Regions from separate parts of the Homo sapiens genome. Here region 1 is linked to region 2. The links come from fine-mapping of genetic effects on gene expression. A gene starts in region 2. The other region holds a variant in brackets. All regions are shown on one strand. Distances are between the middles of the regions. Region 1 overlaps CRY1 (cryptochrome circadian regulator 1). Region 2 holds the start of CRY1 (cryptochrome circadian regulator 1).

Region 1 (5,387 bases), 39 kb before region 2:
GAACCTAGAATTCTATACCCAGTGTAAATAAGGATGGTATCTTCAGACAAACTTGGGAGAGTTTACCATTAGCAGCCTTTTACTATAGAGAATTCTAAAAAATCTAACGTAATTAGATTTGAGACTCTCCTAAAATGACAGTACCTCTTTACCACAAGGGCAGTCCCTTGAATAACACTTTATAATCATTTATTTATTCAACAAATATTTATTGAGAACTTATGTACTAAAGACTGTACTAGATATTAGAAACACACCTGTGGTTTTTTAAAGTCAAACTTCCTACAATTTGAAGCTAATATTCTAGAAGGAGAGGGAGTAAAGACAGAATAATACAAAAACAGTAAAGCAAACTGTTCAAATGGTAATAACTGAATAACATAAAGTTAAAGGGGAAACTGGGACTTCAGGGAATAAAGGAATGGAGACTGGTATTTTATATGAAACAAGTCAAGAAAATACTCACTGATAATAGAACATCTGTGCAGAAACCTGAAGGAAAGTTGGAGAGCAAGCAGTGCTGGTAAGGAAACATTTTGTGCAGAGGGAACAGCAGATGTACAACACAGGTGAAGAACATGCATGGCACTTTAAAAAGAATACTCAAAAAACCAGTATGGCCACAGCACAGAGAGTGAAAGAGTGGCAAGAGATTATTAGGTTAGAAAGTTATCAAGTTCCAGTTCACATGACATCTTGTAGACTATGGTAAGGGCTCTGCCTTTTACTCTGAGATATAAGCCACTAGAGATTGATCCTACTTGTGATTATGAAGGATCACAATGAGCTGAAGAGGAAGAAGGAGAGAACCAGAGAATCTGAAGGGAAATTATTCGGTAGTTAATGTGGAAGCATGAGATGGTCCGAACTTGGATACATTTTGAAGGCAGAGCCCATATAATTTAATCAACATGTTTAAAGTAAAAAAAGCAAGGAATAAGAAATGGCAGATTTGAAAAAGAACCAAAGAAAATCTCCATATATGAAAAATATAATAATTGAAATCCAAACTTAACAGATACAGTTAAAAATAACATTTATAGAATAGCTGATAAAAAGACATTTTTAAAAATGAAGTACAGAGAACCAAAGAGATGGAAAATATGAAGAAAATAAAAGAGTGCAGTAAAAATGTCTAACACACGTACAAATGTATTTTTTTTTTGAGACGGAGTTTCACTCTTGCTGCCCAGGCTGGAGTGCAATGGCGCAATCTCAGCTCACCATAACCTCTGCCTCCCGGGTTCAAGCAATTCTCCTGCCTCAGCCTCCTGAGTAGCTGGGATTACAGGCATGTGCCACCACACCCGACAAATTTTTTGTATTTTTAGTAGAGAGGGGGTTTCTCCATGTTGGTCAGGCTGATCTCGAACTTCCAACCTCAGGTGATTTGCCTGCCTCGGCCTCCCAAAGTGCTGGGATTACAGGCATAAGCCACGGTGGCCGGCTACAAATGTATTTCCAAAAAGAGAAAATAAAGCAAGGCAAAGCAAGATCTGAAAAAGTAACAGCTGAAAAACTTTCAAAGCTGATGAAAGATAGCAACAGACAGGTTTCAAGGAGCACTGTAAATCCAAGAGAAGTAAATACAAAGAAACTCAGACGGAGATTCATCATCGAAAAACTTCAGAACATGTCAGAGAAAGAGAATATTTAAAATTAGACAAAAAGAAACAAGATATTACCCCCAAAAAAAGTATGAGTGGGAGTGGCAGCTGACTATAACTACATCCCCAACAGGCTCAGAGAAAATCACTGTCAACCTAGAATTCTATATCCAGTGTAAACAAGGCCAGTATCTTCAAACAAACCTAAGAGAGTTTACCATCACCAGTCTTTTTCTATAGAGAATTCTAAAAGATACATCTGAGATAAAAGAAAAATGTTCCCCAATGGAAGAGCTGAGATGCTAGGAAGAATAAAGAACATTGTAAATAGTAGATATGTGGGTAAATGAATACTGGCCTTATAAAACAAGAATAATATATTTTGGTTTTTAAAAACAAAAACAGAGAAATGACCAGAATTAGAATATATAAATCAGAAGAAAGGTAATTAGAGTTTGCGTTTCAAGGGCCTTGAATTATCTAATAAATAGACAAAATTATTGATTAACTTTAGACATTAACCAATGTGCTTCTGGTAATTTCTAGAGTAAACACTAAAAGAATAGCTAAAATAATGTGTAATTATTTTATTAATTAATAAATTTATTAAGTCTGATAAATTAATAAATCTAGTTATTAGAAAGAAATTAATGAAATTTAAAACAACAGAATTTAAAAGAATATTAAAAAATAGAACAGGAAGGACAAAAAGAAAACACAAAATAATATGACAATAAATCCAAATACTTTGGTAATTATAACAAATGTAAACAGACTAA[C/T]GAAAGGCTTCAATTAATTAAAAACTATCAGACTAAATAAACAAAAGTTAATATATGCTATTTACAAGAGACATCTAAAAGACTCCAGAAAGTTTGAAAAAAAAAAAAAGGGATACAAAAAAGTTGACTATAAACATACCAAAGAAAGCTGCCATAGCTATATTAATTATAAACATAATGAACTGTAAAGAAATATACTATAAAGTCACGTTCATAATGACTTTAACCAGGTTAATAATCATCTAAATATATACATATTTTACACATTTCTCCACACCTCGTAATGATAAGAACAAAAGCCTTCACTTCACCAGGAGAACATATATTTAATTTTAGCATTTCAAATTGTATAAAGTAAAAATGACAGAGCTTCAAATAAAGACAGATCTATGATTAAACTGTGGGGATTTTAACATTCTTCTGATAATAATTGAGATAAGCAGACCAAAAATGAGTACAGAAGATTTGGACAACTTATTAACAACCTTGACCTAATGGAAAAACAAAGAATATCCCGTCTAATAACAATGAAGACAGCAGTATACACATGGAACATTTTTAAAAATTCAGCATATATTGGACCATTTAAAAAAAAGTCTATATAAATTTCAAAGAACTGAAATTATTTACAGCATAGTCTCTGACCTTGACGTATTTATGCTAAAAATTAATACTGAAAAGACAATTAGAAAACTTTGCATGTTTGGAATATAATAAATATTATAAGTAACAAAGGATATAATTCTAAATAATTCACAGACCAAAGAAAAAAATCATAACAAAATTTAGAAAATATTTTGAACTGAATAATGAAAATACCACATTAAAGAGAATGTGGAATAAAACTACAGTAGCAATTAGAGGGATATTTACACACCTAAATAATTGTATCAGATAAAAAGGAAAGGCTAAAAATAGCCTAAGAATTCAGCCTATTAAATTGAATAGGCTAAATAGGGTATTCAATAGGCTAACTCCATTTCAATAAGTTAGCGTAAAAAAAAGCAGAACAAAGAAATAAAATTAACACATTCTGAAATAAAAAACAAACCTACCATAGTGAAGGCAAATAAAGTTGGTTGTCTGAAAAGACAATAAAACTAACCAACCTCTGATGAAATGTATCAGGACAAAAGGTAGGAGACACAAATAAGCAATATCAAAAATGAAAAGGTTTGGGTGTAATTGCTCACACCTGTAATCCCAGCACTTTGGGAGACTGAGGCAGGAGAATGGCTTGAGTGTAGGAGACAGAGCAAGACCCTGTCTCAAAAAAAAAAAGAATGAAAGAAAAGGGCAAAATAACCATAGATACTACATATATTTATATCAAACAAGAATAAAGCTAAATGGGTTTCAATTTCAAGTAACAGCTTAGGTTATTTAGATCAATCTAATTGGTCTAAACAAACAAAAATACTGGTTAAGATATATAAAATATCTCCCTAAAGAGTTGGCAAGACAATAAGGAATTCCCAAACCAAAAGCTAAGTCGAACATATAATTAGTTTTTGCCCTAAGAACATTTGCTAATAATCCCAGAGAACCTTAATAGTGGTTTTGACAGCCTCACGGTACAAGGACAGAAATTAAAGCCTAGAACCAGCTCAAGACAGAGAGTCTAAGATACTCCAAAACATTAAGCCAAGATGCCAAAAGGCTAGACATCGTTAGGGAAGACGTGAACCAGAAACAAAATCCTCCTCCACACCTTTTGTGAGGTTGCCTTGGCACTCAGCAGAAAAAGATGGAAAATATAAATAAAAAGTAAAGAATTTATAGGCTGTAAGCACTGGCCAGCCCTTAGGTGGATTTTCATCAGAGGGGCACAAGAAATCTCAAACAATAAATTTAAAGTGCCCTGCAGTGGTAATGACTCTAATGCCATTAAGAAGTAAGTTCAAATTCTAGAGCAAGCTTGCCCAACCTGTGGCCTGCGGGCTGCATGTGGCCCAGGTCAGCTTTGAATGTGGCCCAACACAATTTTGTAAACTTTCTCAAAACATTATGAGATTTAAGCACAGACTTTTTTTTTTTTAAGCTCATCAGCTATCATTAATGTTAGTATATTTTATGTGTAGCCTATGACAATTCTTCCAATGTGGCCCAGGGAAGCCAAAAGATTGTTCTAGAGGAAGACAACCTTATAAAAGGCCTCAGGAAGTTCCCACAAATAATCTTTCAAAAAATGAGAAAAATCTTCAAAGCAGCTAGAGGATAGGAGTAGATGACAAATTACATTCAAAGGAGAAACAGTTTCCAACAGCAATAAAGGTAACCAGAAGACAACAGAATATTTTCAATAAACTGGTAACAAACCCAGAAACCTAAAATTCTATATTCATGAAGATATCTTTCAAGAATTAAGACAAACATATAGACATTTTGATAAAAGATAAAAGAGTTTGTCTCCAAAAGATGTCACTAAAAAAAATTCTAAATGATATATTTTAGGCAGAAGTAAAGTGATTACAGATGATTGTCTAGTATGTAAGAAATATGTAAAGCTATCATGTAACAATAAAAAAAAGAAAAAATTAAGAGAAAATGAAGTCACTGCATTAGATGCCTCCTAAGTACTTACAATACAGAAGAGCAAATAGTTACATAAGCACCATAATATACTGCAGTAAGTATTGTACAATACTTAGTCATACTTTTGTTAACAAGATTGAAAAATCTACACTGACTAAACAATGAAAATGGTATAAAGAAAGCCCAATAAATGCCAAGTAGAAAGATTTATGGAGTGCCTGTCACTTAATAGGCATAAATAATAATCAGCAAATAATGGGTTGGCAAATCAGGAGGCAATATGGCACAGGAATTTAAAAAGAAAGCCCTGCCTACCCACTCGTGAATGAGTAAAACGAGCGGAATCTAACATCAGGAGTGAGGGAATAGAAGAATGCCTCTTTCTTTCTCTCCAAAGTTTTCTCACAAACCCACATTTCAAAGATGAGAGGACTGGCATATAATTGAGTAAAACTGCAAAAACAAA
Region 2 (5,387 bases):
AGCCTCCCAAAGTGCTGGGATTACAGGGATGAGCCACCGCGCCCAGCCTAACTCCTTTTCTTTCTCTCTCACTACATATCCAATCTGCCAACAAATACCCTGTATTTTGCCTTCAGAATATAACCAGCATCTGTTTATTTCTCACCACGTCCACGATTATTACTATGATTCAAGCCGTTATCATCTCTCACCTGGATGAATGCCAACAGCTTCTTAATTGGACTTCCTGCTTCTTGTCCACCTCCACTCCCCAATTCAGAACCACAAGCAGAAAAATTCTTTTCCAAACTTATGTCAGATCACATTACTTCTCTGCTCATAATCCTGCAGTTATTCCCATTTCACTAAGTAAAAACCCAAATCTTGAAAACTGCTTATAAGGCTCTCTTCAATCTGGCCCTAAGTCAACTCTGACCTCATCGTCTACTATTTTTCCCTCACTTATTCTGCTCCAGACATACTGGATTCTTCTGCTGTTCCTTCCAAAGGTCAAGCATATTTCTGCCTTTTCCCTTACTCTTCCCTTTGCCTGGAATGGTCTTCCCTTAGATATCTGCATCCCACCACCTCCTTCAGGTCTGCTCAAGTGTCACCTTCTCTGTGACTTTTCCCCCGATCATACTTAAAATTGCAACCCCATCCCTACCCTTGTATTCTTTATCCCTTTACTCTGCTCTATTTTTTTCCACAATACTTATCACCACCTAAAATACTACATATTTTACTTTCTGCTTGAAGACATGACTTTCTGTCTTTCACTCACTGCTATATCCCTAGCATTTAAATCAGTGCCTGGCACATGCTAAGTGATCAAGAGTCTATCTGTTGAGCTATGCTTTTATTTCCACCAGGGGGCCTAACAATCATGTAGCCTGGTGTTTCAGGAAAAGATCATAAAGCATCTCTAAGATTTCTTTCAGTGCTCTGATCCCTAGAAGGACTACAACTTGCCTAGAAAGAAAAACTGTGCTTTGTCTCGGCAACCACAAGGAGGAGTTGAGAAAAAGAACCGAGCAGAGAAACCAGATAATGCTGTTTCCCTTGCTTTTCCCACAGTAACCTCAAGGTGGAAGAACACTGGATCTGGAGCCTGCTGTACTGAATGAATGATTTTTCTCCATACTATGAGTTACCTAGACACAAACGTAAACAGGAAACATCACAATCCTTCCGAATGCCACAAAAAGGCCAAGGGAATCCATATACAATGGCCACTAAGGACAGGAAAGGTGTTTCTTTAACTCCAGCACTAAGAATTCTCCACAAATTCAGGGGAGGAGCTCCAGTTAGCACAGAAAGACACATAACTCACTGATGAAGACCGAGTGTTTCAGGTCGTCAGTACTCTTTGGCCAGAGAAGTATTAAGTCAATTCTATTTAATACTTAGGGCACCTAAAATTCGTAAGCGGTATAAGCAAGACAGTCCCACGTCTAAATTCACAGATTTGGCGGATCGCATGGAATTCATTAACATCAGACTCATTAAACACCCAAATCCATTTCCCACGGGCTTGTGACTCACCGCCACCTGTTGATGCCCACATTGGAGGAGCCGGCGAACCAGGGGTCCAGGATGTAGACGCAGCGGATGGTGTCGGCGCCCTGAATGCACTCCTTCAGGGCGGGGTTGTCGTGGAGCCGGAGCCCCTTTCGGAACCAGTGCACGGCGTTCACCCCCATGCCGGGGGGCGCGGCGGGTCCTCCACGGAGAAATTCAAGGAAGGAGGCTCCGGCTCATAGCCGACACCTTCGCTTCCAAGAGAATTGCCTCACCCGGGGCGTGAGGAAAGGGCGGCAGAGGGGGAACAGGAAAAAATGACTCCGAGGAGGGGACCGGAGAAGGCGGGGGCGCCGGAGGCGCAGTGGAAAGATGAATGGAGGTTGCCTAGTCGGCGGAGTCCGGGTGTGACGCCCTTTAGGAGCCCGCGCCCGCCGCAACCGCCTGGAGGCGACGCATAACTTCGAGGGCCTCGGACCTCCGGAGCCTGAGCAAGTTCCAGGAGCTCGAGCCGCCACGACGGCCCGAGCCGGCACGGACGGCCCCAGGAGATTCGTCACGGAAACCTCGCCCCACCAAGGCGGCCCCTAAAGACAAAACGGCCCGCCCGAGGTGAGTCACCGAGGAGAACCGGAGGGGAATGAGCCCCTGTCGGCGACGCTGTCTCTCGGCCCGGGAGAAAGGACCGGGAACGGAGGCTAGAGGCGGTGGTCGAGGCCGCTGGACGGTTGCCGGCCGGTGACCGGTCCCGAGGCTGCCCGGGTGACTCTGCCGCCGCCGCCGCGTCAGCGGCCTCGGCCCCGCCCCCGGCTCCTCATTGGAGGGCGCGCTCCCCTCGTGACCACCGGCACCTCACGTTTCTGAAGTGTGTTTACTACACTGGCTCGGAGGGGTAATCTGCTCGCGCTTCGGTCGCTTTTGGAGGAGCGGCAGCCGCTTGATCCCAAACTTGTTGACCCTCGTCCACACGCTGAACTCACTGCCTCTGCCCCTTTCCTGTGCCGACTGGTGGCCGTCCCTTGGAAGCAAATCGCGTTGACCACAGGCCCCTTGTGAGGGAAGGCTTAGCCCCGCCCCCAAGGGCCATGAGCGGCCACCATTGGCCGAGGCTCGCTGAGACCCGGATGAGCACGGGGATGCGGGGAGCTTGCGGGCGCGCGCGCTGCTCCGTTAGGCGCGCGTGCGCTCTCGCTGCGTTCCAGAGGGTAAGGGGGCGGGGCCGGCGGGCAGGAGCGCGCTCGGCGATTCCTCCCGTGGGATTTGGGGAGGGCCTGGAAATTGTCCGGTTTCCTTCAGGAGCCAGTGGTGGAGTCGGGCGGAGAGTGAGGGGAGGATGGAGTGGAAGGAGGAGAGTGGGAGGCTCCACGTACATTTCAAGTCCAAACCATGTGCTTCAATCCTGCTTTGGCCAGAGAACCCTACTTTGGAGATTGTGGAGCTGTGCCCCTCCACTCTCCTGGCCCTTGGGTGCCTCCTCCCCCTTGTACATACTCTGGGGAAAAGGGTAATTGGCAGGACGGATGCCAGGCATTCCTGGACTTCCTGGAATTTTTTTAATACTAGCGATATATATCATCAACCTTTCACCCCTCGTCTCTTACATTTAATGTAGTTTACCGGTCTCTTTGAAACTGGACGTTTGTCTACTTTTCCAGCGACAGTGAACTGCAGGCCATGGCATCCCTTAGATATATGATGCCCTTAAATTCATTCAATGATTACTTTTTGAATGAACTAGGCACTGTTCAAAGCACTAGAGATACAGGAGATACTTAATAAAACAGACTAAAACCCCACCCCTCCTGGGGTTTACAATTTGTCTCTTAACCTTTGCTGTTTTTTCCTCTATAAAATACTCTTCTTTGGAATCCAGTACTCAATATTACCACCTTTGAGCTACCTAGGATATTTCTACGCATCCCTTTAGACTCAGATGAAATAATAACTAATTTCTGAAAGTATTCCTGATCCCTAGGGCAAATTTAGGACCTCCCTGGGTTCTCCAAGTATGTTTCTGTTACATCACTTTTCACACTACCGTGAAAATTAGTTGAAAAGTGCCCATTCCTAGCAATACCAACTCAGTAATAGTACTTATTATCATAATAATGTGCCTCTGATTCCCTCTGAAGTGTGATTTCTCAAGGACTGGGTCTGTATTCAGTTTTCTTTTGTTTTTATTTTTTGCATCAACACCAGAACAGAGCCTGACATAGGCAAATGCTTATTTAATGAATGAATGAGTGAGTGAGTGAGTGCTGTTGGCCACCAGTGTGTTTGGCAAAGTTAAAAGAAAGAAGGAGATGGCAATTCTTATTGGTTGAATTGTGTGTCCCCAAAATCATATAACTCTCAATGACTATAAATGTGGCCTTATTTGGAAATAAGGTCTTTGTACATGCTCAAGTTAAGATGAGGTCATTAGGGTGCACCCTAATCCAGTGTGATTGGTGGCCTCATATAGTGGAGAAATTTAGACACAGAAATACATATACATACAGGGAAAATACCATGTAAAGATTGGAACTGTGCTGCCACAAGCCAAGGAACTACTGGAAGCTAGGAGAAAGACCTGGAACAGATCCTTTCTTAGCACCTTCACAGGACTGTCGCACTGCTGACACCTTGATTTTGAACTTCTGGCCTCTAGAACTGCGAGACAGTTAGTTCCTATTGTTCTAAGCCTCCCAATTTGTGGTGCTTTTTTACAGCAGCCCTAGCAAACTAGTGCAGCAATAAAGTAAATTCAATACTCTAGAGAGCCAATCTGTCTGAATAGTCTTCCCTACTTCTGCTTCTGTTGCCACAAGAAGTATATATCAGCCTTTCTTTGGTTCTGTAAGAATACTTTTAAAATTATATATATGAATGATATGGTTTGGCTGTGTCCCCACACAAATCTCATCTTCAATTGTAGTTCCCATAATCCACACGTGTTGTAGGAGGGACCCGGTAGGAGGTAATTTAATCATGGGGGCAGTTACCTTCATGCTGTTCTCATGATAGTGAGTGAGTTCTCACAAGATCTGATGGTTTTATAGGGGGCTTTTCCCCCTTTTGCTTAGCACTTCTCCTTCCTGCCTCTATGTGAAGAAGGTTGTGTTGGCTTCCCCTTCTAGCATGATGATCAGTTTTCTGAGGCCTCCCCAGCCATGCTGAACAGTGAGTCAATTAAACTTCTTTCCTTTATAAATTACCCAGTCTTGAGTGTGTCTTTATTAGCAGCATGAGAACAGACTAATATAGTAAATTGCTACTGGGAGGTGCTGCTATAAGGATACCCAAAAATATGGAAGCACCTTTGGAACTGGGTAACAGGCAGAGGTTGGAATGGTTTGGAGGGCTCATAGGAAGACAGGAAAATGTGGGGAAGTTTGGAACTTCCTGGAGACTTGTTGAATGGCTTTGACTAAATTACTGATAGGGATATGGACAATGAAGTCCAGGCTGAGGTGGTCCCAGATGGAGATGATCTTTTTGGGAACTAGAATAAAGGTGACTTTTGCTATGTTTTAGCAAAGAGATCTGTGAAACTTTGAACTTGAGAGAGATGATTTAGGGTATCTGGCAGAAGAAATTTCAAAGCAGCAAAGCATTCAAGAGGTGTCTTGGGTGCTGTTAAAAGTATTCAGTTTTATATATTCACAAATAATATGGCTTGGAATTGGAACTTATGTTTAAAAGGGAAGCAGAGCATAAAAGTTTGGAAAATTTGCAGCCTGACAATGTGATAAGAAAGAAAAACCTATTTTCTGAGGAGAAATTCAGACCAGCTGCAGAAATTTGCCTAAGTAATTTGGAGCCAAATGTTATTCTCCAAGACAATGGGGAAAACGTCTCCAGGGCATGTCAGAGGTCTTCACAGCAGCCCCTCCCATCACAGACCC

What was found.
Region 1: its variant is fine-mapped to the expression of CRY1 in blood mononuclear cells (TOPMed, PIP 0.98).

Annotation. Positions count from the first base shown.
Region 1 is chr12:107,052,169-107,057,555 of GRCh38, forward strand. All of the region lies in intron 1 of CRY1 (cryptochrome circadian regulator 1), which reads right to left. Among named protein-coding and RNA genes, the nearest start is that of CRY1, 39 kb to the right of the region's middle. The variant C/T (reference allele first, on the strand shown) is at 2,387.
Region 2 is chr12:107,091,280-107,096,666 of GRCh38, forward strand. It overlaps CRY1 (cryptochrome circadian regulator 1), which reads right to left and starts at 2,270. Exons shown (of 13, transcript NM_004075.5): 1 at 1,525-2,270. The coding sequence starts at 1,682. RefSeq lists silencers at 2,102-2,331, 2,662-2,741 and an enhancer at 2,412-2,561.